Linked DNA regions of Homo sapiens. The protein of the gene in region 4 purifies or fractionates together with the protein of the main gene of each other region. This does not show direct contact. Each region holds a gene or a part of one and is shown on either strand. Other genes may lie near its edges.

The links.
Region 1: the proteins of QSOX2 (region 4) and ORC3 purify together in Homo sapiens (affinity purification with mass spectrometry; one large-scale study listed by BioGRID and IntAct). This does not show direct contact.
Region 2: the proteins of QSOX2 (region 4) and NBEAL2 purify together in Homo sapiens (affinity purification with mass spectrometry; one large-scale study listed by BioGRID and IntAct). This does not show direct contact.
Region 3: the proteins of QSOX2 (region 4) and PCDHGB4 purify together in Homo sapiens (co-immunoprecipitation; one large-scale study listed by IntAct). This does not show direct contact.
Region 5: the proteins of QSOX2 (region 4) and TUT7 purify together in Homo sapiens (affinity purification with mass spectrometry; one large-scale study listed by BioGRID and IntAct). This does not show direct contact.
Region 6: the proteins of QSOX2 (region 4) and EDEM2 purify together in Homo sapiens (co-immunoprecipitation; one large-scale study listed by IntAct). This does not show direct contact.
Region 7: the proteins of QSOX2 (region 4) and TRDN purify together in Homo sapiens (co-immunoprecipitation; one large-scale study listed by IntAct). This does not show direct contact.

What each region holds. Positions count from the first base shown.
Region 1 is NC_000006.12:87,665,066-87,668,065, forward strand, and holds the end of ORC3 (origin recognition complex subunit 3), read left to right. Parts: intron 1-688; coding exon 689-768; intron 769-1,945; coding exon of another isoform or gene 1,946-1,952; coding exon 1,953-2,058; 3' UTR 2,059-2,386; downstream 2,387-3,000. UniProt on the Homo sapiens protein: Component of the origin recognition complex (ORC) that binds origins of replication. DNA-binding is ATP-dependent. The specific DNA sequences that define origins of replication have not been identified yet.
Region 2 is NC_000003.12:46,992,765-46,996,855, reverse strand, and holds part of NBEAL2 (neurobeachin-like protein 2), read right to left. Parts: intron 2,981-4,091; exon of another isoform or gene 2,941-2,980; coding exon of another isoform or gene 2,920-2,940; coding exon 2,836-2,919; intron 2,402-2,835; coding exon 2,303-2,401; intron 1,825-2,302; coding exon 1,223-1,824; intron 1,143-1,222; coding exon 1,010-1,142; intron 925-1,009; coding exon 805-924; intron 586-804; coding exon 264-585; intron 106-263; coding exon 23-105; intron 1-22. UniProt on the Homo sapiens protein: Probably involved in thrombopoiesis. Plays a role in the development or secretion of alpha-granules, that contain several growth factors important for platelet biogenesis.
Region 3 is NC_000005.10:141,502,288-141,506,378, forward strand, and holds part of PCDHGB4 (protocadherin gamma-B4 isoform 1 precursor), read left to right. Parts: intron 1-3,105; coding exon 3,106-3,194; intron 3,195-4,091. Other genes in the region: PCDHGA1 (protocadherin gamma-A1 isoform 1 precursor), read left to right, coding at 3,106-3,194; PCDHGA2 (protocadherin gamma-A2 isoform 1 precursor), read left to right, coding at 3,106-3,194; PCDHGA3 (protocadherin gamma-A3 isoform 1 precursor), read left to right, coding at 3,106-3,194; PCDHGB1 (protocadherin gamma-B1 isoform 1 precursor), read left to right, coding at 3,106-3,194; PCDHGA4 (protocadherin gamma-A4 isoform 1 precursor), read left to right, coding at 3,106-3,194; PCDHGB2 (protocadherin gamma-B2 isoform 1 precursor), read left to right, coding at 3,106-3,194; PCDHGA5 (protocadherin gamma-A5 isoform 1 precursor), read left to right, coding at 3,106-3,194; PCDHGB3 (protocadherin gamma-B3 isoform 1 precursor), read left to right, coding at 3,106-3,194; PCDHGA6 (protocadherin gamma-A6 isoform 1 precursor), read left to right, coding at 3,106-3,194; PCDHGA7 (protocadherin gamma-A7 isoform 1 precursor), read left to right, coding at 3,106-3,194; and 11 more. UniProt on the Homo sapiens protein: Potential calcium-dependent cell-adhesion protein. May be involved in the establishment and maintenance of specific neuronal connections in the brain.
Region 4 is NC_000009.12:136,211,114-136,215,204, forward strand, and holds part of QSOX2 (sulfhydryl oxidase 2 precursor), read right to left. Parts: coding exon 4,041-4,091; intron 340-4,040; coding exon 151-339; intron 1-150. UniProt on the Homo sapiens protein: Catalyzes the oxidation of sulfhydryl groups in peptide and protein thiols to disulfides with the reduction of oxygen to hydrogen peroxide. May contribute to disulfide bond formation in a variety of secreted proteins.
Region 5 is NC_000009.12:86,347,532-86,351,622, forward strand, and holds part of TUT7 (terminal uridylyltransferase 7), read right to left. Parts: intron 1-4,091. UniProt on the Homo sapiens protein: Uridylyltransferase that mediates the terminal uridylation of mRNAs with short (less than 25 nucleotides) poly(A) tails, hence facilitating global mRNA decay. Essential for both oocyte maturation and fertility.
Region 6 is NC_000020.11:35,116,214-35,120,304, forward strand, and holds part of EDEM2 (ER degradation-enhancing alpha-mannosidase-like protein 2 isoform 1 precursor), read right to left. Parts: intron 2,507-4,091; coding exon 2,385-2,506; intron 995-2,384; exon of another isoform or gene 923-994; intron 1-922. Other genes in the region: MMP24-AS1-EDEM2 (ER degradation-enhancing alpha-mannosidase-like protein 2), read right to left, coding at 2,385-2,506. UniProt on the Homo sapiens protein: Involved in the endoplasmic reticulum-associated degradation (ERAD) pathway that targets misfolded glycoproteins for degradation in an N-glycan-dependent manner.
Region 7 is NC_000006.12:123,626,768-123,630,858, forward strand, and holds part of TRDN (triadin), read right to left. Parts: intron 1-4,091. UniProt on the Homo sapiens protein: Contributes to the regulation of lumenal Ca2+ release via the sarcoplasmic reticulum calcium release channels RYR1 and RYR2, a key step in triggering skeletal and heart muscle contraction.

The DNA.
Region 1 (3,000 bases), on a different chromosome or scaffold from region 4:
TGATCCTGAATTCCTTAACCAAGCCAATTCTGTGTTCATGCTAGGTCAAAATAAGTATGTGATCTAACCCAATAGTTAGCATTAAGCAAAAACTAAACAATTTAGGTCAGTTCTGTTATTTCACAAAATAAAGTATATTATTAACTAGCATTTCTCTTCTTGCTTAAAAGAAAAAAAATTGAAGTAACTACACAACAGATTTAGCAATCAGGAAGTATAAGGAATACTTGGCAAGGCAATAAACAACTGTTGTTATTCTTTAAAATAAACAACTATTCTTTCTGTCTTCAGAATAGTATTACAAAGATCTTAACTCTATTAAAGGCCTTACAGATGTCTTGTCACCATTAAAAAATATCCATAATTGGCTGCTTCCAAGAAAAATAGATATTTTCCTGGAGTAAGATTAGTAGAGGAAACAGGGCTTTCTTGTTCTTTTACCTTTGACTAGCTTCGTTTCTTTTCTCTGCATACTCTTAGTTCTCTGAAACAAGATTATTCAGGAACCATTACTTTATCTTTTAATATATAAGTGGTTTAAAGTGATCATCAGTGTAGTTTTGACAATCTTAAATTTGATATAATGAAGAATATGTGCCAGCTATCAACAGCCATTAAAAGAAGTATAGTAAAAGATGTTTGGCAACTGTAGACATTTTTATTTTCTTCTGTCTTGTCTATTCAAAAGGCTTTTGCAACAGTTGTGACAGCTGCTGAAAAAATGGATGCAAATTCTGCAACCTCAGAAGAAATGAATGAAATTATCCAGTATCCTTTTAAAACCATTTCTACAATGTCCAACTACACATAAAATATAAGTTTATAATTTCTCCAGGTCTACACTAGATATTTATAAAGGCGTACTCCAAACAACCGTATTACTTGTTAATATTAACCATATGGTGCTAGAATAACTGAAATTTCTGAATCTTTATTTTGAATTTAATCCAAAATGAGACCAAACCTAAAACTTTTGGTATCAAATTTATATCAAGATTATATTTTAAAATTTACCAAAAATGAAACTGCCATTATTGAATTCTCTTTTTTTGGTTTTTGTTTTTTTTGTTTGTTTGTTTGTTTTTGAGACGGAGTCTCGTCTATCGCCCAAGCTGGAGTGCAGTAGTGCGATCTTGGCTGACTGCAACGTCCGCCTCCTGGGTTCAAGCAATTCTCCTGCCTCAGCCTCCCAAGTAGCTGGGATTACAGGTGCCTGCCACCAAGCCCAGCTAATTTTTGTATTTTTAGTAGAGACGGGGTTTCACCATGTTGGCCAGGCTGGTCTCGAACTCCTGACCTTGTGATCCGCCCGCCTTGGCCTCCCAAAGTGCTAGGATTATAGGTGTGAGCCACCTCACCCGGCCTAATTCTTTTTTTTTTTTTTTTTTTTGAGACAGAGTTTTGCTATTGTTGCCCAAGCTGGAGTGCAGTGGCACGATCTCGGCTCACCGCAACCTCCACCTCCCGGGTTCAAGCGATTCTCCTGCCTCAGCTTCCCAAATAGCTGGGATTACAGGCGCCTGCCACCATGCCTGGCTAATTTTTGTATTTTTAGGGGAGATGGGATTTCACCATGTTGGCCAGGCTGGTCTTGAACTCCTGACCTTAGGTGATCTGCCTGCCTCGGCCTCCCAAAGTGCTGGGATTACAGGTGTGAGCCACTGACCTGGTCTGAATTCTCTATTTTTCTAATGTACGTTTAGAAGTGGGGGCGGGGAGCAATTTCCATACTATGTAGAACATTAGATTTAGGAAGCATTAAGTACTTTTCCATTTATGTTTTATTGATAGTGGATTCTAATTAATGTTTTCCAGTAACAGTTATAGTTTAATTTAGGAGTTTATATCTGAACTATCTACTTCATTTTACCAACTAGTATTTTAACATTGAGATTTTAATCCCTTTTTGTCAAAAATACAGCACGGCCAGTTTCCTTAATTAAAGCCTCCAGTGCTCGGTTTATTAGAGCTGTTTCTGAACTAGAACTTTTAGGATTTATAAAACCTACCAAACAGAAGACTGACCATGTGGCAAGACTAACATGGGGAGGCTGCTAGAAAGCAAATAAGCAAAGCCAGAACTATCACATTTAGCTTAAGAGAAAAAGGTGACCAGTCATATTTACATATATTAGAGGAGCCTGTTTTGTTGAGAAGATAAATGTGTAACCCCCATTGATGTTTAACCAGAAAAGTACATTGCTAACCCCAAACAGGCATGTATCAAAACACCTGTGGAGTACTTTAGACTCCAACAAATAATAATGTAACTAAAACTGCTCACACATTTTACTGTACTTTCCAAAGTCATTACTAAATTGTGAGTAAATCATTCTTGAACTTAGAGTATGTAAATGTAATAAATTCCGTTATCCAGGAGTATAAATTATTTGCAGTTGCTTTAGCAATCCTCATTCCTCCTCTCCCAATTCCCTGCATTGGCATTCCTCACTTTAGTGTAGTAGGCAGTAAGTAACATGAATATCTTACAGGTTGTTTCTCCTGGTGACTACATAGGTTCCAAAACTGTCTCTGCCTCTCCATTTCCTGTAGTCTTACAACTTTAAAGAAAAAAAAAAAAGGCCAGGCGTGGTGGCTCACACCTGTAATCCCAGCACTTTGAGAGGCCAAGGCGGGTGGATCACAAGGGCAGGAGATCGAGACCATCCTGGCCAACAAGGTGAAACCCCATCTCTCCTAAGAAATACAAAAAATTAGCCAGGTGTGGTGGCACATGCCTGTAGTCCCAGCTACTCGGGAGCCTGAGGCAGGGGAATTGCTCGAACCCGGGAGGCGGAGGTTGCAGTGAACTGAGATCGGCCACTGCACTCCAGCCTGGGTGACAGAGTGAGACTCCGTGTCAAAAAAAAAAGTCCCAAACTGTTTGGCTTTATTTAGGCAGTAAATATTCTACTTCGGGATGACCTGTCATGGAGCCAGTAAGGCCTCTACAAATCACATCCCAAACAAATACAACTCAGATGAGCAAAGTAAGGCCCA
Region 2 (4,091 bases), on a different chromosome or scaffold from region 4:
CTCCCCTGGGGCCCCCAAATACCTGAGGTGAGTAATGGAGGAGCAGCCTGGTGCTGAGCTCATGCAGCTCCCCCTCAGGCTTGAAGGGTGCCGTCTCATTGGGCCCTGGGAGGTGGGCAGGGGGCTTCAGACCTTGCTAGGCCTCTGGCCAAACCCCATCCAGAGACTGCCTGACCACAGGAGAGACCCCCAGAGATGCCTTCTCCCCCCGGACCCCTAGCTTCTGGCCTGGGGCTGTGGCAGAGATGGAGAATGCTGCATACCCAGGGTGCACAGGGTCCTCAGAGCCGTCGCCTGCAGGGCTTCGTGAAAGATGGCCACAGCCCCCAGCTCACCCTCCAGGGATGTGGGGCTGCCCCACCGAGTGTCCTGGGTGCCTGCGAGGGTAGAGTCGATGCTGCCCTCCTGCAGGGGGGCCACCAGCCCGGACCCCCAGCCAAGCCCTGTGGAGGCTGGGACTGACTGGGAGCGGGTGAGGGCGGGGTGAGTGTAGGCCAGGGTGGCGGGGACTGGTGGTGTGGGCAGCCCTGTGGTGGTGGTCGTTGTGCGGTATCCAGCGGAGCCGATACAGCAGGAGGAGAAAGGCTGTGGGGCCGGGGTTGGGGGAGCGGTCAGGTCACAGCAGAACCTGGGGCTCCGCCTACAACCAGTTCCTCACAGTGACCCCCATGGCTGCATGGACCCCAGTGGCTAAAGTCAGGCCTGTGGGGCAGCACGGGACACAAGGGCTCCAGGCTACACCTGCCCACTGTGTTCCAAGTCCTCCCATCTACCCAAGGCCTCCCCAAACCTTGCTTGGCACACCTCACTGAGGGAGGGGCAGCGAAGGGGTGCTGTCTTGACCAGATGGCCGTCTTTGTAGACATGGACCAGGTTCTGGCTGAAGGGCCGGCGCCCAGGCACATGGACGATAGCCACGCAGTGCTAGAACAGAAGCCTCACATTAGGCCATACTTGGGACTCAGCACCCCTCTCTCTACTGGGCCACATGAGAAGGATGGGGTCTCACCCAGGCAGAGTCGGCAAAGGACACTTCGGGCAAACTCATGGTCAAATACTCCTTCCGTGTGCACACAGCCACCACCAGGGTCCCGGCCGCCGTGAAGAAGGCCTCAAACCCTGAGCCGCTGCTGGTAAAGAAGCTGGGGGCAGGCAAGCCAGTTATGTCTGCTTGTTCCTGCTCACCCTGGCAGGAGGTCCCTGGCCCCTGGCAGTCACCCACCTGTACAGCTGCTTTCGCTGGAGTGGTCGGGTGGGGGCAGGGGTAGGTGCTGTATCCATAGGGTGCAGACAGAGCCAGGCATGAAAGGTGAAGCCAGGCCCTGGCCATCGCTGTACAGGGGGTACCATGATGCCCGCCATGCTGGGCGTGAGGTCAAAGTAGCGCAGAGCACGTGCAGGACCCTGGTGCCTGGCCATGCCTGATAATGTGCGGATGACAGCACCTGCGTGTCGGGCCTTTCCAGCCTCAGCTCCGCCTGGTTCCGAGTCCAATCCTGGCCGGGGGCGCAGCAGGTGACGCAGCTCCATGGGCCTTATTGATACACGGCCCAGTGCTTGTAGCAGTGCCAGCAGCTGCTCTTGGCAGCGGGCCTCCAGGGCTAGCCCTGTGCTGAGTGTCTCCAACAGGCAGCCCACCAGGCCTGCCTGCACACAGGTGGCACGGCTGGCAGGGCAGCTGTCACAGAGCCACCTGAGGCGTTGCGCTAGGAAGAGCCGCAGCTCAGCGGTGGGCAATGACGGCAGCCACTGCGCCAGCACCAGTACCGGCTGCTCGTTGCGGATTGGTGGAGGTGGGCACATGCTGTGGTCACCCTCCACAGCCTGTGGGTGGAGAGAATGACAGTCCCTGGTCAGCTGTGGCACCCTGTCAACAGTGGGACTTTCTGGCTCCATTTACTTGCCTACGGCAGCAGTCAGCAACATGATCTACTCCATCCTGCCCACAGGTTGTGTGTGAGGCTCAGGAAAGTCAGAGGGGCACAGATGACAGTCACTACTACTAAGAGTCCTTCAGCATTGTTAATCCCTCAACCTTAGTTTTCAGCCTGGGTTGGCCTAACCCCTAACTGCATGTTCCTAAGATAATCCTGGGGCTTGCTCACATGCAGTTGCTTCCAGGACCCCTACAGGGCCAGAATCCTCATTCCAGTGACACTAACAGACATGGCCAGGCTACAGGTAACAGTATGTACTGGCCGCAGTCAATACGGTCCCCCAGGGTGGAGAGCTCACCATCTGTGGTAACCCTGACTCAGTTCTGGTTGCCTTTGGGACCCTGGTCCCAAGCCCCTTCCCTCACCATGTTGAGCAGCTCTTGCAACAGCCGATGGGTGGGGGGACCATGGCTCTGCAGAACCTCCTGCAGGTGAGGGTAGCCGATGCGCTCCTTAAACACCTCCTGTGTAAGGTAGTATGGGGAAGAAGTGAACACATACATGGGCCGGAGGGCAAACTCAGACCCCCTGGAAACTCTGGAGGGGCATCATGTTTTGGGGTTCCCTTGCGTAGCTCTGCCTCTGGGTGACAGTGCTGGTGGGCAGTGGGCTGCAGAGGGATGGGGGGGACGTGAGTACATCTCAGAAGGCTGTAGATGGAGGTGGGCCTACAAGTGTCCATTCCCCATCCAGCCCTGACAGAGAAGATGCAGCTCCCAGGACAGACTGGCGACCACACCTGCCCAGTGAGCTTTAGGGCAGGGCAGTCACCTCCCAGCTCGCCTGCTTTGCTCCAGGGAGCAGGATGCTTATGGCCACCGGCCAGGCCTGTTCTGGGGATATGGTCAGTTGAACTCCACCCCGCACCCCTACTAAAGCTGCAGTGCAGCAGCCTCACCTTGGCCGAGGGGGAGTCACTCATGATGCAGGTCAGCACTCTGACTACATGGACTGCAATGGCGTCTGTGTCTTGGTCCAGGACCTTGGGGTGGGGAGGGGCCATCAGGAGAGGCAGGGGCCAGGGTGTCACAGCTGGCAGCCCCCTGCAGTAAAAAAGGTGCAGAGCCAAGCACCCCAAGGCATGTGGCATGTGCTGGATCAGCAACTCTGTCAGAGCACCAGGCCTTCTACTCCTTGCCCCAACTGCTGTGACCCTATCATGACCTAGGGCCCTCTCTGAGCAGCTCAGCAAGACCCACTCTAACAAAGGCTGGGAAGGGCCTCACTGGGACAGATTAATGGTGGACACTCTGACTGCACCCTCCAGTCCCCCTTTCTCTAGTGGAGTTAGGGCCCTACCCCCAACCTGTCTCCCTAAAGCTAGACACATGAGTACAGACAGGCCAGCAAGTGCCCCATCACCCACAGTGATTGACAGGGGTCAGAGATTTAGGGACAATCAATCACAGGATGTTAGAACCAGAAGAACCTTCGAGACCTTTAAGTCCCACCTTGCCCCTTCCCCCTAGATCCAGGTGGGGGCACTGAGGCTCAGCCTGGCTGAACCTGACAGCCAGAGGCATGCTGCTGCCTCTCCTGCCCCACCCTGAGGGGGTCAGGGGTTGGGAGGGCTTGGAGAGTTTCTCAGCAGGGACTAGGTCATATTCGGCTCCATGGGGCCTTTGGTCCCAGCTTTGCCTGACTCCCCAAGTGACCTAAGGCATCAGTCCTCCCCCTCCAGGCCTCAGTGTCCTCATCTGTAAAAACAGAGGGGAGTCACTTTGCCCTGCCTGCTTTGCAGATGAATAGACGTGTAAGCTCTAAGAAAATGACCACATGCGGTGAACACATAGGGTTACCTCATGAAGACAGAGCCAGGGTAGGGGCTATGGAGGTTGGGGCCCACAGGTTGAGCCCCCAGAAAGGGTGCCCGCTGTGAAGCTGCCAGCTGACACCCTGCAGCCTCCTACAGCCCACATGCAAGGTGAATCAGGGATCACATCATCAGGGGCTGGGGGACACCCAGTGACCCGCTGAGGGTGGGTGCAAGAATCTACAGAAAGAAATGGCACCATGAGGGAGACCCCTTTCTCTGTGACTATAGCCAAATCCTTGAGTGTCTGGGCTTCTGTCTCCCCTTCTGAGAAATGAGGTAGGTGGCTGAGTTTCGAAGGTTCCATCCAGCTTGGCACAGCCAGACCCCCAACACCCAAT
Region 3 (4,091 bases), on a different chromosome or scaffold from region 4:
GTTGTCACGTCTTTCCTCTCCTTTAATCTGGAGCCAGCTCCCAGTCTTTTTATTTTTTTAATGACATGGATATTTTTAAAGAGTCCAGGCCAGTTGTACTTTAAAATGTCCCCGAACCTGGATTTGCTGGCTATTCTCTGATGGTTAGATTCAGATTACACACCTTGGTAGGAATACTTCCCGCAGCATCACACTGGGACTCATCTAACGTCGGCCTGTCCCACTATCAGTGATGCCGAGTTTGTTCGTGTGGTAAAAACAGTGTCCCAGATCTCTCCATTATAAAAATATATTTTTATAAAGATATTTTAAAATATTTGTGAAAATATAAGTAATCTGTGGATGATACTTTGAGATAGGCAGCAACCCTTCATGCAATTTTAGTATTCCCTGATGATCCTTGCCTGTATCTGTTTTTACATCAGTGATTACAAAGCGGTGATGTTCTGTCATTCCTTCTACATGTATTTGCTGGTATTCTTCTGAAAATTACCTGGATGATTTCTTCAGATTTAAATTCACTGTCTTTTCCTTGGGGAAGCCTGGACTGGCTGAGCTGCCTAACCCTGACTCTCTGTCTTTTTTTTTTTTTTGACAGGGAGTCTAGCTCTGTTGCCAGGCTGGAGTGCAGTGGCAACCTTCACCTCCTGGGTTCAAGCGATTCTCCTGCCTCAGCCTCCCAAGTAGCTGGGATTACAGGCGTGTGCCACCATGCCCGGTTAATTTTTTTTTTTTAATATCTATTTTAGTTGAGACAGGGTTTCACCATGTTGGTCAGAATGGTCTCGATCTCCTGACCTCGTGGTCTGCCCGCCCCTGCCTCTCTTCATACCCTCTGGTAGCCCCTGACACAGCCCATGGCAAGTATCACAATTGCAATTACTCTATTGTGTAATTATTTAAAATCAGCCTCTCAGTGCCCACCATGAGCACCGTAAAGATGGACAGTTTCTATCATACTCACAGCCACAACCCCAGCACCTGGCTCTGTGTCTGGTACATAGAAATTGCTCAAGAAAGAATTGTTGGAGGGGCGCGGTGGCTCACGCCTGTAATTCCAGCACTTTGGGAAGCGGAGGCAGGTGGATCATGAGGTCAGGAGTTCGAAACCAACCTGGCCAATATGGTGAAACCCCATCTCTACTAAAAATACAAAAATTCGCTGGGCATGGTGGCATGTGTGCACTTGTCGTCCCAGCTGCTCAAGAGGCTGAGGCAGGAGAATCACTTGAACCTGGGAGGCAGAGGTTGCAGTGAGCCGAGATCGCGCCACTGTACTCCAGCCTGGGTGACAGAGCGAGACTCCAGCTCAAAAAAAAAAAAAAAAGAAAAAAGAAAAGAAATAATTATTGAATCAATGGAAACAGAATTACAACTCTTCCCACTTTTGGGAAGGAGAATTGAGATTCCTGCTTTCCCCTTCAACCCTAGCTTTATGTTTGTTGTGATGGTATAGAGGTCACACATGGCAGCCTTGTGTCTGTTCTTAGGCTGAGTTCATCTACTTAGGGACGGGGAATCCCAGATTGGGCAAAACCAAAAGCAGGGACAGACCTTGGAAAAATTGTAAAGCAGTTCTTGGTTGTGCTCACCCACCATGACAAAATATGCACACACACAACGCAACACACACACAGACATTTTCATGCCTTCAAGGCCTACCCTACAGCCTTTCCCATGGTGCCAAACCCTTCTTCTTACCTTACAGTCACTTAACTGTCTCTGCTGGTCTCTTCCCACTCATTTAGGCAACAAATATTTATTGAAAAACTTCTCTGAGCCAGATGGTGCCAAACAGTTACCTAAAGGGCAGACTGTGTGTGTGCCAGGGCTGTTTCCCGCCAACACTCCCCTGCAAATTGAAATAATTTCATCCTTGGAAATTCAAAAAAATCATGAAAATTGTCACTGTGGGAAAATTCCAAGTAGAGCTGAACCTTCTAAGAAGCAGAGAGTTCTTCTTATGGTTTAGTATTTTTTTAAATTATGAATCATTTCATGTTTTTTCAACACTCGGAGTTTCTAAAAGTCTCACTTAGGTCCAAGTGCTAGGCTTTGTGCTAGGTGCTTCAGTAGGAAGCAGGTGGAGTCGCTGCCTCACAGAAGCCAGTGTGGTGGAGGAACAGACAGGCACTACAACAGCTGCAGTGTGACTAGTGCCATGTGGGGCAGCCGCTGGGATGGGAGTACAGTGGAGGCACCTGCCCAGTCTGAGTGGATCTCCTCTGATATATTTTATTCGTGTCATCATGGCAAATGTTGGGGGACTGGCATTCTAGGGAACACCATCTGCCCAGGATTCACAGCAAGAGGGAACTTGAGGGATAGGAAAGTGCACCTTGGAAAAGGTTTGATGATAGAGTGTTTGAGGGCGGGGGGTGGGGGTTCTTGTAAAATAGGAGGGGCAGGTTCTTCTATGGCCGTGGATTTTACTCTGAGGGCTTAGGAAGCCATTGAATTTTAGAAATTTCTTCTCCCTGCTCCAGGGTCTCTTGGGGCCTCCTACATCTCCCCCTAGGTACCTCCTAGGTCCCCACTTTTTCTCTAGCTCTGGAACATTCTCTTCCATTTCCCACCTTCACAGTCCTCTGGAGAAGGTCTGATCTCCCTCACTATGACAGGAAGCCAGGCTCTCTCATGGTGGGTGGGGGAATGCACTATGTTCAATGCATTGGACCAGCCTGGCCAACATGGTGAAACCCCGTCTGTACTAAAAATACAAAAATTAGCCTGGCACAGTGGCAGGTGCCTGTCATCCCAGCTACTTGGGAGACTGAGGCAGGAGAATCGCTTGAACCCAGGAGGTGGATGTTGCAATGAGCCAAGATCGCGCCACTGCACTCCAGCCTGGATGACAGAGTAAGACCCTGTCTAAAACAAAAAGAAAAAAGCATCGGAGGCAGCAAAGAGCTGGTTTGAGGGACTGACTTGTGGGATTCTGGCTTCTGAAGGATTGTAGAAGTGCCTCCTACCTTGCTGAGAGAAACAGGTCTTGGGCATGGGGTAGGGTTAGGGTACTAGGTTTGGGAGCCCTGGGAGAGGACAGGAGGGGCATGAGCTGTGCCGGCCTGGGAGTCTGTGCTCACCATCCTACTCTCTCCCCAGCTCCCAAAATGGCGATGACACCGGCACCTGGCCCAACAACCAGTTTGACACAGAGATGCTGCAAGCCATGATCTTGGCGTCCGCCAGTGGTAAGTGGTGTCAGTGTGTGTATGGAAGAGTGGGAGACCTGGGGTTCTGGGGTGCATCTCACAGCCACCATGCCCACGGACTGGATGTCAAACCTGTGTAGTTTCTCCAGATCTTTCGGCAGGTCTGAAAGGACCCACAATTCCAAACATAAAGCCTGGAATTGTGGCTAAGGAACAGCAGAGGGGTTGGGGGTCCTGGGATGCCTGGAGGAGAGCGAACAAGGAAAAGACTCATGGAGGGAATAGTGGTTACAAGTCTAGCTCTGGAATGGGACAGTGTAGCTCAGGTCCTAGCTCTGCTACTATCCTTGGGACTTGGATCGACTTGCTCAATCTCTCTAAACCTCAGTTTCCTCAGCCTAGAAAGTGGGGACAGGGACCCCAAAGGGTTGTTGTAGAGATTAAATGAGATGATACCACAAAGCATAGAGTTCTGGGCCTGGCGCTTGGAAGCCCTCAAGCAATGAAAGTGGGTGTAGAAATCCCCAGCCGAGAGAACACCTCCTCTTTATGCGAGGCTCCTCTTTTGCTGCCCCTAACTCCAGAGTAGGATTCTGGTTTTCCCATAAGGTTGACTAAGGGCTTCCTTTGTAATAGAGATTCGGCTAGTGGTGGTTGTCCCTGAAGAGTCACTAGGGCCCAGAGCAGGAGAAGAAGAATATCATTTGTCCTTAAGAGCACAGCCTAAGCTGGGCGTGGTGGCTCACGCCTGTAATCCCAGCACTTTGGGAAGCTGAGGCAGGAGGATCATGAGGTCAGGAGTTCGAAACCGGCCTGGCCAACATAGTGAAACCCTGTCTCTACTAAAAATACAAAAATTAGCTGGGCATGGTGGTGCGTGCCTGTAGTCCCAGCTACTTGGGAGGCTGAGGCAGGAGAATCGCTTGAACCTGGGAG
Region 4 (4,091 bases):
CACCCAAGTCCTGATCCCGTCAGCACAGTGGGTGGCACGAGGCCGCAAAGCTCAGGGACAAGCCCCACGGCAGCCGTGCCGTCCTTGCTGTCCCAGGACCAGGGCCTCCCTCCGCCCGTGCTGAGCCCCCCATGCCCAGGGGCTTCTCACCTGCCAGGCGGCCGTTCACCATATTATGCTTCTTCCACAGCCAGAGGATGGCTTGGTCTGGGGTTTTCACCGAGTCCATGGATTCTTTAGCCATTTCCTCAAAGTGCTCACCACATTCCTTACACCCAAAGAAGGTGTGAACGTACCTCCTCATTGTCTGCAGCACAGCCTGGGGGTCGTCTTCAAAGCCTGCAGGGGAAGAAACACTGCTGACAACGGCAGGTGCGTGGGCATCACCTGACCCCACGCTTGTCCAGAGAGCCTGGGGGGAAACCGCTCCTGACATGTCGGGAAGCCACCTCATGTCTCCCCAGGGGCCTCAGGCTGTGGGCACAGACCAGAAGCCAGCACCTGCCAAGATGTCCAACACGCCCACGGGTGCTGCAGGCTCTGGAGACACAATGACTGTGGACAGCCCAGAGGGCGGACATGCTCCCCAGATGCCCTGGTGCCAGGAGGATGAGCCACGGACTCGGCCGCCAGGGCCCAAAGGAGCCCTTCCAGGGGCGCCTCCCACCTCCCACCAGTCTTCCAGCCGTCTGTGCCAGAACGCCCGGAGTGCCGCTCTTCCCCGGGATTTGCCAGCTGGGTGCAGTCTCTCTTGCCTTACAAGCAACTCTCAGGGGCTGGTACCAGGGCAATGACTCTGCTCATTCTAAACCTGCAGCTGTCGCGTTTGAAAGCCCTGCAGGACACCAGCCCAAGTGGGGACACGGCCTTAGGAAGTGACTCTTAAGCTGCCGCCAGCCACGGGCGTGAGGATGTGGAGCAGGTGGGCAGGCACAGGGACGGGTGCACCCACAGCCAGAGTTTGTGCCACCGAACGTATTAACAGACATGGACAGGCCGGGGCGCTTCCGCAGATACTGTGAATGAACAACACACATCTCAAGAAAGCAACACCTGCCCACAGGTGGCAGGAAGCAGCCAGCACCGCAACCAAGGGGAACCCCTGAGAAAACCAAGGGGGCAGCATGGGGCGGGGCTCGGCAGTCCCCACTCAGACGACTGACACAGGAGCTTGAACGCACAGATAGGAGACCCATGAGATTAAAACAGATTACATGTCAGCATTAAAAAAAGACATGCTTTCGCGAATGAATCCGTCTTCATCGACAGCAGGCCCTGGGGGAGCTTCCCGCGTGAGTGCAGGCCTGACGCTTGTCGTGGCTCCCTGCAAAACACAGCTGCGTGCAGGCCCTGACCTCAGCGTCCTGGTCGGTCCCAAATCCCGACACTTCTTGTTTATTTCACCCAGAAAGGTGAGAGCAGAGCAGAGCAGACCACCTCCTCCTCAGCCTTGAGCGTGTCCACGGGCAGCTGGGCGGTGTCTCAGATGGGACCGCAGGCGCTGGCCCTGTGACCCGGCCCGTCTGCCCTGCTCTCCTGCCGGGAGGGCTCCACAGACATCTGCCTTGCATCTCCACGTAATCCCCCTCCTCTTCCCCACATCACCGCAGGCGCGGGGCCACCCTAATCTTTAAAGTGGACAAGAACCATAAACCTCTACCTGTGGGAGGATTAGAGGCCTTCACAGGCATTTTACTAGATAGGGCTTAAACATACAGTAAAGAGAAGAAAAACCTTCCAAGACTTAATCCCGTGGTCGCCTCTGACCCAATTCTCTTGGCAGGAGGCTACTCCTGGAGGCTGCTTCCAATATGCTGATGGGCGGAAGGAGCGCTGAGGGTCTTGCTAGCAGTGTGCTTTGCCATCACACTGCTCTTACAATTCCACTACACTAGGGCTGGTCCTAGAAGAGTTTAAAATCAAATACCCCGGTCACTCAACTTCTCCCCTTGGCCAACACTGTACCCACACTGCCTTCAAGGAGCCGTTCCTCATGCCTGCGTGTGCCCGTGTGATCAGAGCAGACGGAAAGGGGGATGGCATGTCAGCTCATCTCCTCACCAGAACTTTCCATGTGTAAACGTGAGGTTTCCTAACTCAGGCTCACGCTTCAGAAGCAGTTTTGTTGTGTTTTTTTTTTTTTTTTTTTTTTGAGACAGTCTTGCTGTTGCCCAGGCTGGAGTGCAGTGGCATGATCTTGGCTCACTGCAACCTCCAGTGCTGGGATTACAGGTGTGAGCCTTGTGCACAGCTCAGAATCAGATTTACATGGTCTGGCTGGGCATTCGGTCGGAATCAGGTTTGCATGGTCTAGCTGGGCATTAGATCAGGCAGTGTGGATGCTGTGATTTCAATTTCTGTTTGGACAGCTCCCAAGGTTTCTCCCCAAAAACATACTACTCTTTTTTTCTGTATGATTATGAAAAGGATTTGAGGTTAAAACCCACCCTCTCCCCCAACCAGACCCCCGAGAAGCAGTAATCCAATATCACCTTGAGGAGGGCCAAAACAGATTTTCAGAAGGCCACTATAGTGCCCCCATCCCGGGACACTCTCCCATTAACAGGTGGAATCTATTTCTCTCACCACGAATTTAGGCTGGGTCAACAGGATGCGGCAGAAGTAATAATATGTGACTCCACACTGAGGTGGACTCTCAGGGGGTCCTGCCTGAACCTGGTGCTACTTGGTGGGGAAGCCACGTTCAGGAGTACGAGGCATTCCAAGGTCCCCTGGACTGACCAGCTGCCACCAGACGAAGGCAGACACACACGAGTGAGCCCAAGCAGCAACTCACAGAAGAACCGCCCAGCCGAGCCCAGCCCAAACTGCTGATCCACAGCATGATAAGCAAACAGTGGTGGCTGCTTTAAGCCCCAGCATTTTAGGTTAGTTTGTTATGTGGCAAAAAATAACCGTAAAGGAATTTGAGAATCTTACTGGAAAGAGCGTTGAACTGTGTGAGTCAAGACTCCACTTCGGCTTTGAAGTAAACATTAATGAACCTGAATTACTGCTTCAACTGGGAAGCACACACACAACAAAATTCAGGGGGGATAAAAAATCCAATACATACTTTAGTGTTCTGTGAAGGACAGAAAATTTGTTTTTATCTATTTCCTAGTAATTGAAAATTATTAAATCCAACTTCGAAGTTTTATAGGTTTTAACCCCTTGTGGTGGGCAGCCTCTGCGACGGTCCCCACAGATCACACCACCTATACTCACGCCTCCTGTAATGTCCTCCCCTTGCGAGTGGCCTGGGCCTGGGGACTGACTAGTAAGCAGAATCTGACAGAGGTGATGGAATATCATCCTCGGATAGGCACCCTCTCACTGGCTTGCTGATGAGGCTTGCTGCCATGATGTGAGCCGCCCGATGGAGAGGCCCTGAGCGTGGCCTGCAGTCAACAGCCAGCATGGAGCTCAGGGCCTTAGGCAAGCCACGTGCAAGGAGGCAGGCCCTGCTCTCTGCCCCATGAGGGTGCTGGGAAGCCACTCTCCCCAGGTGGGCCTTGGGTGACCCCCCAGGCCCAGCTGACACTCCGACTGCAGCCTGACCAATCCTGAAGAAGAGGACCCAGATGAGGCCATGCCCGGCCCTCAGAAACCATGAGCTCATAACCGTGCGTGGTTCCCGTGGTTCTGGCTGCTAAATTTTGGGGTGATTTGTTATACAACAGCTGATAATGAGAACACCTCTCCAAACAGATTTCACTTATTCTGTCTTTTTAAAGCAAAAAACAGGGAGTTTACACTGCAGGGAAACTCCCAGCCAGCACTCTTTCTTCTTTATGGTTTATTTCCTGCACGTTAGCCATGCACATCCTTGCGAGTTCTGACAAGGGGAACTCGTGCCCCCGCAGCCACAGCCCTGGGTGAGCTGACCGTGTGAGAGGAGTCTGAAGTGCCATTCCCCTGCCTCAGTGGCCTGGCGACATGCTGCCTCCCATACAGCAGTACATGCCTTTGCACACACCGGCTGGGTTAACTTGTTAGGCAGACCATCGGCCCCTCTGGCCTGTATGGGCACAGCTTACCTGTGCCAACCAGTGCATCTGGGTGGGTCGAGGCTTCAACAGTCAAAGTGT
Region 5 (4,091 bases), about 50 Mb from region 4:
CTGAAAAGGAAATATAGGACCTCCAATTTTATAAAAAGCTTGCTGAGAGCGCTAAAGGATAAGCAGCAAGCATTGTGCTAAAACTACCTGAGATGACTATCTCAAAATTCTGCAAACACCTTCCACAATATAAGAAAATTAAAAAATTAAAAAAAATTAAAGTGTTGGAAAAGTAGTTTTAAAAAATCAATCAAAATACACTGAACAAATAAAATACTAAAAGGTAAGTTGTCATTTCAACAGAAAATCAGGCTACCTTGCGCTACCTTAATATTTCCTTTTTAATACTCCCCCGACTCCCAATTAAATTATCATAATCTTTTAAGGCCAGTATTTCTGGTCTGAACAATTTTTTTTTTTCAGATAAGCACTTCTTTTACTTAGAGATGTATCCATTCTCATTTAGTTTGCTTATCATTATAAACATTATCAAAAAAACTGCATCTAACTTCAGTGTTTATTACAGGTTTCTTAGGCAAAAACTCTATAAATTTAAAATAATACTGCAATACCCTTTAGAAAAGCCCCTATTAGTTCACAAGCCAGTAAGTGATAGGGAACCGAATTCCTTTTTTAAACTCTTCCTCTCTTCTGGTCACAAAGGTTTCTCCATATAACCATATTTGCTGTCATTTTCTAGAAAGAGTAACTTCTCTCTTCCTCCAAAGACCTCAATCAACTCCTACTGCTTTTATACAGAAGTGGATGGCTGCAGAAATTCTGTCAGATAATGGCAGCTACCATGATGGTGTATCTTATTATGCAACAGATGTAAAGCACTTTATATGTACTGCCTTATTTAATCCCTACAGCAATCCTGCTAATACTGTCCCCATTGTACAGATGGGGACAATGCGAATCCAAGAGAATAACTTCTCCAAGAACACATGGCTAAATCAAAGTAAAGGGATTGAAAATATAGATTAAAATATGGATGGGGCCAGGTGCAGTGGGTCATGCCTGTAATTCCCAGCACTTTGGGAGGGTAAGGTGGGAGGACTGCTTGAGCTCAGAAGTTCAAGACCAGCCTGGACAACATAGTGAGATGTCATCTCTAGCAAAAATGAAAAAAATCAGCCAGCAAGATGACTCACTCCTGTGGTCCCAGCTACTCAGGAGGCTGAGACGGAAGGACTGCTTAAGCCCAGGAGGTGAGGCTGTGGTGAGTCATGATTGCGCCATTGCACTCCAGCCTGGGTGACAGAGTGAGACTCTGTCTAAAAAACAAACAAACAAAAAAAGGATGAAATCCTGAAATTCAGCCTTCTAACTAACAACATAAAAACTGGAAAGAAATTACTAAAATCCCTTCTTGGAACATACCCATTCACATCTAGAGTGGACTAGCACTGAAAGGCAATATAACCTTCTAAACCTACTTTCACAGGCATGCATGGTAAAAACTGTCAAAATCTCACCGGAGGGACTCTTGGAGGGTAAAGCTAGGTACTGATGAAAAATTCTTGGCCAGGCGTGGCAGCTCATGCCTGTAATCCCAGCATTTTGGGAGGCCGAGGCAGGTGGATCACCTGAGGTCGGGAGTTCGAGACCATCCTGGCCAACATGGTGAAACCCTGTCTCTACTAAAAATACAAAAATTAGCTGGGCGTGGTGGCAGGCACCTGTAATCCCAGCTACTCGGGAGGCTGAGGCAGGAGAATTGCTTGAACTCGGGAGGCAGAGGTTGCAGTGAACCGAGATCATGCCATTGCACTCCAGCCTGGGCGACAAGAGTGAAACTCCATCTCAAAAAAAAAAAAGAAAAAAGAAAAATTCTCATAATTACTTGGAGGAAGACTACCTGGCTTACCTCAGATTTATTGTAATAAGAGTTCTCTATATTCGGCATTCCAAGTTTCCCATATTTTATTTGCATATGGTTCACAAAGGACATGTGTATTTGAGTGGATGCTTTCCAGCTAAGATCATTAATGGCAATGTCCCAAATACATTAAACTGGCAATCTAGGACATTTGAAGGCTAAAGTAGGGGCAGTAATGTAGAGCTGAAAAAAACAGAAGGTAGTACCGTATGTGGGGGGGAAAAAAGCAACTCCACCATAATTTCCATTATATCTTCTCACATTGTTGAATAATACCCTTCCTTATTAAGACACAATTTTGATAAAGAAATTTCGATCTCTTTAATGAGATCCTTTTTAGTTTATACTTTCAGTTGAATCTCTCTAAACTAAATAATGTTATACCGAAGCTTAATGCTTCCTATATGAAGATTTTCAAGGGATAGAAACTGAATAATTCTTTACTTAATAACTGTGAAAGCATATACCTGTATGTCATACAGCAAAAACATGCAAACTTTTGAATTACCTCCAATAAAAAAATAGCAAAATGCATTTCCTATTCAAATACACTTAAAAGCAACTTCTTTAGTTGCTTTTATAAGAATACACATAAAATAAGAAAACATATAAAAGTTTTTGTGGTCAGCCAACAGTTCCTTTTAATGTCTAGTTGCAAATTTTTGATCTATAAACTTTCTTTTTAAAATGCTTTTCAGCCGGGTGCAGTGGCTCACACCTGTAATCCCAACACTTTGGGACGTCAAGGCAGGCAGATCATGAGGTCAGGGTATCGAGACTACCCCTGGCCAACATGCTAAAACCCCAACTCTACTAAAAATACAAAAATTAGCTAGGTGTGGTGGCACGTGCCTGTAGTCCCAGCCACTCAGGAGGCTGAGGCAAGAGAATTGCTTGAACCTGGGAGATGGAGGTTGCAGTGAACCAAGATCGCACCACTGCACTCCAGCCTGGGCTACAGAGCGAGACTCCATCTCAAAAAAGAGAATAATAATAATAAAATGAAATGGTTTTCAAGATCAACTTCTACAAGACTATAGGTAACAAAATTAAATACCCACATCCCACCTGGACAGTAATACAGAAACACTTAAATATACACAATTTTTAATAAAGAAAAACACAAATCAAAAGCCCAGAAATTATCAAGAAATATTCGGCTCCGCCGTCAGGATTTCAGGTCCAGCGAGGCTGAGTTAATGGCCAGAGTAGCAGAGTCCCCAATTTTAGTTCTACTTCCTCATTTACCGCGCTGCATAAACAGGTCTGTGGAAATTTAACCTCTCTGAGCTGCAGCTGCCTGATTTGTAAAACTGTGATTCCATTTTTGATATATTACAACAGAGTACTGCATCAGATAATTCCTCAAGCTATTTCTAGCTTAAAGATTTAAGTTTTATGTCTCCCTACTACTTAACGCCTTTATAACACTTCATTCTGTTTCTGCTACTTGATATTAATATATACTCTTAATTTTCAAATTTAAAAATATCTGAGGGCCAGGCGCGGTAGTTCACGCCTGTAATCCCAGCACTTTGGGAAGCAGAGGCAGGTCGATCACTTGAGGTCAGGAGTTCAAGACCAGCCTGGCCAACAGGGAGAAACCCTATCTCTATTAAAAAACAGAAAAATTAGCTGGGCATGGTGGTGTGCACCTGTAGTCCCAGCTACTTGGGAGGCTGAGACATGAGAACCGCTTGATCCTGGGAGGCAGAGGCCACAGTGAGAGGAGGTCACATCACTGCACCTCCAGCCTGGGTGACACAGTGAGACTGTCTCAAAAAAAAAAAAAAAAAATCAGGCTGAATGTGGTGGCTCACGCCTGTAATCCCAGCACTTTGGGAGGCCAAGGTGGGTGGATCACTGGAGGTTAGGAGTTTGAGACCAGTCAGGCCAACATGGTGAAACCCTGTCTCTATTAAAAATACAAAAATTAGCCTGATGTGGTGGCATGTGCCTGTAGTCCCAGCTACTTTGGGGGATGAGACAGGAGAATCGCTTGAACCCAGGAGGCAGAGGTTGCAGTGAGCCAAGATCGCGCCACTGTACTCCAGCCTGGGTGACAGAGCGAGACTCCGTCTCAAAAAATAAAATAAAATATAAATAAACAGATCTGACAACTAGAAGTATCTGTGAAAAAAGAAAAAAAATCAAGTAGCACATTTCCCCCCATTTAATATTAATAAGTGCTTGAGACTTTCATTTTTATCCTAAGACCTTGTAAAGATAAAAGACGACCTTTTGGCTTTTAAGTATTCTATACGCATGG
Region 6 (4,091 bases), on a different chromosome or scaffold from region 4:
CAGGCTGGTCTCAAATCCCTGGGCTCAAGCAATTCCTCCTACCTTGGCCTCCCAAAGTGCCAGGATAACAGGCGTGAGACACACACCAAGCTCCTACAGTATCTGTATAACATAAGTCTTCCTGTCAATTCTCTACTCACAACTTTCTGTGAGCCCTCCATTTCATGCAGGATAAAAATGCAAGTCATGACCTGGCCCCTGCTCCCTTCCTGCCCTCACCTCTTACCACTCTAAGAGCTCCAGCTGCTGCCTTTCTGTCCTGAGCTAGCACAGCACCCTCCTGCTTCGGGCTCTTTGCATCTGTGGTTCTTTCAGCCTGGAGCACTCCGCCTCCAGTTTTTCTCATAGCTTGTTCCCTCCCTTCCTTCAGGTCTCTGCTCAAATGCTTCCTCACCAGAAAGGTCTCCGCTAACCTTGCTCTATGACATGACAATCTCCTATCCCCTTTATCCCAACTTTTTGTGACTATAAACATAGAGCTAATCGTCCCTTTTAATGATGGCAGAGTATTCCATCGTGAAAATGGATCACCATTTACTTGGCTAATCCTCCTTGGAAGGGCATTCAGATGATTACCAAGTTTTTTTTTTTTTAGAGATGGAGTTTCACTCTGTTGCCCAGGCTGGAGTGCAATGGCATGGTCTCGGCTCACTGCAACCTCTGCCTCCCGGGTTCAAGCAATTCTCCTGCCTCAGCCTCCAGAGTAGCTGGGACTACAGGCACATGCCACCACACCCAGGTAATTTTTTTTGTATTTTTAGTAGAGACAGGGTTTCACCATGTTGGTCAGGCTGGTCTTGAACTCCTGACCTCGTGATCCGCCTGCCTTGGCCTCCCAAAGTGCCGGGATTACAAGCCTGAGCCACTGCGCTTGGCCAATTACCAAGTTTTTGTAAGCAACTAATAAGGGGTCTTTTTTTCTCCACTCAGACCCAAAGTATCGACACTTACTAGGTTCAACTGCTGTTGATGAAAACTATTGACATTGTTTTAGTAAGGAGTCTTATTTAGAGAATTTCAACTGAGTTTTCAGGCATGGATGACTAAGATTACTTGCTACAAACATTTATTTTAGCTTCTCAGAATTAGTAATACTTCTAAACAAAACATTCTCAGTGGACTCTATCTTACATTTAAAAATATGACTCAAATATGGTCTTGATGTATCAAGATGATTATTTCCTTGCCCTGTTTGAGAAAGGTCAGACCCCTGTTCCCATCATTCACCATGGAAGACCTCCAAAGGGCTTCATGTTCATGGAAATGAGCCCAGCATTCCTAGGAAGGCCCCAGTGGGCTTATCATTTTGGTTTTTCACACAATACAGCATATTAGAAACCAAATCATATCAGGGGTTTATTTTTTCCCTTCCACATGTAGGTCTTCTCTCTTCCCCTACACATATCTATATTTTACTTATAGAATATAATCACATTACAAACTTTTGCAAAATAAGTGTTTTGTTGTTGTTTTGAATTCCATACCCCAACACTGTAGGCTTTTCAGGGGATTTTCTTCCAGACTATTTTCTTCTACTTTCATATTTATATCTTGCCTGCTTGGTTCCTGCATGGATGTGAGATGGCTCTCACCTTTGACCCTTTCAATCTATTCTTCACAAAGCAGCCAAAGCGATCTTTCTAAAATACAAATCAGATCATGTCACTGCTCTGCTGTAAATCCTACCAAGGGTTCACATTCCAAGTAGAAAAAAAAACCCAAACTCTTTCCTGTGGCTTACACAAAACCCTACATGATCTAGCCCCTGCCTACCTCTGGGACCTTATCTCTTCCCACTTTTCTCCTTGCTTGCTCCGCTCCAGCCACACTGGCCTTCTGTCTACCAGATACACATTCATGGTTTTTTTCTCATTAAAATGTAAGCTCCATGAGAGCAAGGCCACTGCTGTAACCCTTGGGCCTAGCAGAGTGCCTGGCATGTGAAAGACATTCAAGAAATATCTGTGAGACTAAGCAGGACTGCTTTGTTAAGGAGTCCCAGGTTTGAATATAGGGCTATGGGACTCTGGATTCCCCTTAAAATCTATTTTAGTGTCTCACAAAACTTTTCGCTAAACTCACCTTTTCAAAGTCACCTATTCAAACAGATCAAAGATCTCCACTGTGGGAGGAATGCCAAGGGCCGGGGTCAAGATCCCAAGGAACTAATTCTAGCTCTACCTCTACTAGCTGTGAGATCTTTAGCAAGGCACTTAGCTTCTCTGTTCTTTGGTCTCCCCATCTGTAAAATATGAGCATTATGTATATCTCCAAGGTCCCTTCTAGTGCTGATATGTCAGAACTCCCAAAGCTCTACCCTTAAAGAGGCTTTTTAGCAGCAAGGGGAGACTCTTCCCAGTTCTTGGGGCCATGCAAACACTTACTGTTGCAAATCCGCACTCCACCTTGCTGATTTTTTCAATGGATTCCACAGCATCTCTTCCGAGTTCTAGGAGGGTGGGATCCCCCGTGGCACGGTAGAGGTACATTGCGCTTTCAATAAGTTCTGCAAAGTCCAAAGCAGACCCTCCTCACTCAGTGGCTGCACAGAGATGGCCTGGGGCCTCTTAGGGCCGTGAGGGACTACTCCCCTCCATATCTTGTCCATAAGGCCCCAACTAGCAGGAACACAGGATACCTCACCCAGTGCTGAGTTTCAGAGCCAGTATACCCAAAGCTTGAAGCTCAGTGGAGACCAGCATTAAGGCTGACCAGTGACTTCCACCACAAGGGAGAGAAAGGTGGCCAGGTTCTGGCATAGAGAAGGTGGCGGAGGTTGTTGCCTAATTCCCAATATCTGTTCCCCGCTTCCTCCTTAGTAGCAGGATTCCTAACTTTAGCTAAGCACAGGCTGCCTGGCTGCCAACACTAACTATTCTAACAGCTAGGTGGGATTAAGGACACCATGGCGAGCCATATAAGCCCAGAACATGAGAGAGAAATACATTTCTATCCTAATTAAGCTACTATTTTTTTTCCTGTCACTCAGAGTCTAACCTAATTCTAAAACTCAAAAGAAGAGTAAGAGCTTGGCATCATAAGGCTCGTTCTAAGATAGGATGGACCAAAAGAAAAGGCTGAGATATCCAAGAGCAGGCCAGGCATGGTGGGTGGCTCATGCCTGTAATCCCAGCACTTTGGGAGGCCAAGGTGAGAGGATCGTTTGAACCCAGGAGTTTGAGACCAGCCTGGGCAACATGGCGAGATCTTGTCTCTACAAAAATTAAAAATGATTAGCTGGGTGTGGCATGCACCTGTAGTCCTAGCTACTCAGGAGGCTGAGGTAGGAGGATCACTTGAGCCCAGGAGTTTGAGGCTGCAGTGAGCCATGATTAAGCCACTGCGGCACTCCAGCCTGGATGACAAGAGTGAGACCTTATCTCAAAAAATAAAAATTAAAAAAATAAAATAAAATAAACCACCAAACCGTCAATCTAACAAAGACGTAGTCATCAGTTCACTGTGGCCAGAAAAAGTGATGTTTTGTCTTGCCCAATTCTATGCCACAACTGGAACTTGATGTTAAGACATGAGCTCTACCTTAAGATGAATATTAGCCAACAGGAGTGGGTCCAGATGAGAATATTTATTCTAGAGATAAGGAAATCCAAAAAAAATGTGTTTATTGCTTTCAAATACCTGAAGAACTGTTGTAGAGTTGACTTCAAGGGTGGCCTCAGCTCAGTATGTTTTTCTACTTCATCCATCTTTTCTAAGAGACAGAAGAACCCCTGTCTCCTTTCTATACCATCATCTCCCCCTGACCTTCTCCTGTCCTGTTTCCTCCTGGGCTTGATCAGTGCTTCTGTCCCTTTTGGCTTATTGCTGCAAACTCTGGTTCTTATTTTATTCCGTTAATTACTTTTTTGTGACAGAGTCTCACTCTGTCACCCAGGCTGGAGTGCCATGGTGCGATCTCCGCTCACTGCAACTCTGCCTCCTGGGTTCAAGGGATTCTCATGCCTCAACCTCCCAAGTAGCTGGAATTACAGGCATGCGCCACCAGCCCTGACTAATTTTTGTATTTTTAGTGGAGACAGGGTTTCGCCATGTTGGCCAGGCTGGTCTCAAACTCCTGACCTCAAGTCATC
Region 7 (4,091 bases), on a different chromosome or scaffold from region 4:
TTGTAATGTAAAAATTATATTTTTTAATGGCATCTAGAATGGTGAATTCTTGAGAAAGTTGTCAATATAGTTTGCTTGGATCCATAAGAGGTATTTCTCCCTATGTCACCTATAGCCTTATAAAATGTTTTTTTTAATTTTTTATTATTTTATTTTATTTTATTTTATTTTATTTTTTGAGACAGAGTTTTGCTCTTGTTCCCCAGGCTGGAGTGCAGTGGCACGATCTCGGCTCACTGCAGCCTCCACCACCCGGGTTCAAGTAATTCTCCTGCCTCAGCCTCCCAAGTAACTGGGATTACAGGTGCCTGCCACCACGCCCAGCTGATTTTTTGTATTTTTAGTACAGGCAGGGTTTCACCACATTGGCCAGGCTGGTCTTGAACTCCTGACCTCAGGTGATCCACCCACCTTGGCCTCCAAATTGCTGGGATTATAGGCATGAGCCACCGAGCCTGGCCCACAAAATGTATTTCTTAAAAAATGTCTTGAAAATCAAAATTACTTCTTGAGCCATGAGCTGCAAAAATGATCTTCTGTTAGGCACGAAAACAACATTAATCTTTTTGTATATCACCATCAGAGCTCTTGGGTGACCAGGTGCATTGTCAATAAGCAGAAATACTTTGGAAGAATTTTTTTTTTGAGTAGTAAATCTCAACAGTGGGCTTAAAATATTCAGTAAACTATGTTGTAAACAGATGTGCTGTCATGCAGGCTTTATTATCTCATTGATAGAGCACAGGCAAAGTAAATTTATTGTAATTCTTTAGAGCCCTGGAATTGTCATAATGGTAAACCAGCATTGGCTTCAACTTGAAGTCACCAGCTGCATTATTCCCTAACAAGAGTCAGCCTAAACTTTGAAGCTTTGGAGCCAGGCATTGACTTCTCCTATCTAGCTCTGAAAGTCCTGGATGGCATCTTCTTCTAATAGAGGACTGTTTAGTCTACATTGAAAATGTGTTGTTTAGCGTAGCCACCTTCATCAATGATCTTAGCTAGATCTTCTGGATAACTTGCTGCAGCTTCTACATCAATCCTTGCTGCTTCCACCTTGCACTTTTATGTTGTGGAGATGGCTTCTTTTCTTAAACCTCATGAACCAACCTCTGCTAGCTTCCAACTTTTCTTCTGCAGCTTCCTTACCTCTCCACATCTTCACAGAATTGAAGAGATTTAGGGCCTTGGTCTGGATTAGGCTTTGGCTGAAAGAGAATTCTGGCTGGTTGGATCTTCTATCCAGACCACTAAAACTTTCTCCACATCAGCAATAAGTTTGTTTCACTTTCTTATCATTCATGTGTTCAGTAGCACTTTTAATTTCCTTCAAGAACTTTTCCTTTGCATTCACAACTTGGCTGTTTGGTGCAAGAGGCCTAGCTTTCAGCCTATCTTGGCTTTTGGCATGCCTTCCTCAGTAAGCTTAATTATTTTCAGCTTTTGATTGAAAGTAAAGATATGCAACTCTTCCTTTCACTTGAATTCTTAGAGGCTGTTGTAGGTTATTAATTTTCCTAATCTCAATATTGTTGTGTCTCGGGGAACAGAAAAGCCTGAGGAGAAGGAGAGATAGTGGGAATGTCTAGTTGTTGGAGCAGTCAGAACACACATATTTATTGATGAAATTCACCATCTTATATAGGGGCAGCTTGTGGTGACCTAAAACAATTACAATATTGATATCAAAGAACAATGGTCACAGATCACCGAAACAGACATACCAATAACGAAAACATTTGAAATACTGTGAGAATTACCAAAATGTGACACAGAGACAGGAAATGAACGCATGCTGTTGGAAAAATGGTGGTGATAGCTTTATTCATTTTCTTTGAAAAATGCAATATCTGTGGCATGCAATAAAGCAAAGTGCAATAAAAAGAGACATGGCTGCAATTCAAATTGGAATCAAATGTTTTATAATCTGTCCAGTCTTTATTCTCACTGTTATTTTTTGCTCTTTTCTTTTTGTTTTGCAATGTAGCAGGGACCTTTTATCATTCATTTTTGTGTCCACATTGTCAGGCATTCAATTTGGTACGTAATAGGTATTAAAATATTGAATAAAACCAAACCTCTGGCATGACATACTGCTTCATAAATCTACATCTAGGATGATAATTAATACCATAGAATCTAAAATTTTGTTATATTTCAGATGGAGGTAACTTGCCTTTTTCTAAATGCAATGCCTAATATTTCTGCAGATTTAAATTCACAAACTTGGCATTTTACTATACTGTAGTAACTTTCAGATTTTACAGTACGCTTTTTCCCCTAGTCAATAATATATAGGTTAAATCAGAATAACCATGGGCAAAAATAATAGCTCCAGCAGTGAATGTCAGAGAAGTGCCACTTCATATCTCTTATTTTTGTCTTGACATTATATTAAATGTCTTCCTCAAACAGAAAATTCCCCTAATCACATGATAATTTTATTTTCAAAGGCAACAGACAATTTTCCAAGGAAAGTTTGCTAAATATGTATTTTGAACGTCTGTATAAATGGAAACTGAATCTCTCACATCCACGAGCTCACTAATGCCCTAGACCATATTAAAACTAAGTTTGAAATACTAAGAGTTTTTCCTTCTTTTGTTTTTCTCAACACTTCAGTAACCTGTGTCAGGGAGGGGAGAATGATGCAGCAAATGCGTAGCAAAGATAAAACTGGTTTGTCACAATGAGTTCCAGCTTCATGCTGTCTAAATGAAACCAAGTTTCCCCTATAAAGAACAGGTTGCTCCATTTAAATTATCTTTGTTCTTATAGGTCAAAATATCATGTCTTTAACTTGTTTGGGTGAAAACCACATGCCCTAGCTTCTGGCACAGATAACAAATTAGAAAATATCTAAACCACATATATTTAAATGTAATATTTAAAGTACATTGTAAGTGAGATAGAGTCTGCAGTTTATGAGGAAACAGCTCATTTACATACCAAAGAATCTCTCACAATTGTAAATTCTGTGTGTCTTTGACAGCTTCACTTCAGGCATGGAGATGTGGAGATGTTTGATGTTTAGAGAGCATTAACTTGTATAGAGCAGAGCAAGACTTTATTCATTGCACATTTGCCAAGGATACTCTTTTTGGTTTCCTTTGAAGATAAAAATTACTATCTGTTTGGACCAGGAAGTTCATCTGTCTCTGCATAACCCTCACTAGGGGTAATATATATTTACATGACAATCAAATAAGTATTCTCTGTAAAAAACCAAGCCTGTCATTCGTATTATCCAGGGCAGGTGGGAACTGGAGACAGCAAAAACTTAACCTTGACAAATCTTCCTAGAACTTTAAGTAAAATGGAGCCTGAACTCCGTAAAGTCGACATTATTGTATGATGTTAATGCATAGTTGCCAGATGAAGATTTTTCCCCTGCTTTGTTCTTTTTAAATATGTTACATTAGATAATATGTATTTTTTAAAAATACATTAAACATGTCCCCAACGGGTTTCTTTTTGTTTGAAAGAAGAAAAGAATAATGTTTTAATACTATCTTTAAGCTCCAACTAAGCATAACTATAAAACCAAAAGCTTTACTGGAAAATCTTAACCATTTTCTTTTCAAATTGATATATTCAACACAAAGGTCAATGTAGATGATTTTAAAATTGCTTAGTTGCACTGTTTTATGTTTCTCTCATATTAAATATTGTTAACTGATTAAAAATTAATGCCAACAGTATTGGAGGCCTTAAGTCTCTATGGATTCCTAAGCCTTTAGTATAATAACTGAATAGCCTCAATTCATTTTTGCATTGTAAAAGTAGCATGAATTTTAAATTACAGTCATAATGATAACCAAAAATAAATAGGAAAAAAAATAAGAAACATTTAAGCTCATAAACGGAACATTTTCATGGATACTATGTGCTTATGGGGTGGGGAGAAAAATAGTTCCTATTACAAATAATAATAAAAACTACAAGAAAAAGCTTCTTAACGGAACCTAACAAGGGCTGACACTACACAGCTATATTTTCTGCTCATTGTCACTGCAAATTTTGTATCATGGATGATTTGAACAATTTAAAAAACATAAACTTAATTTGCCAAATAGCATGATCTTGTAAAA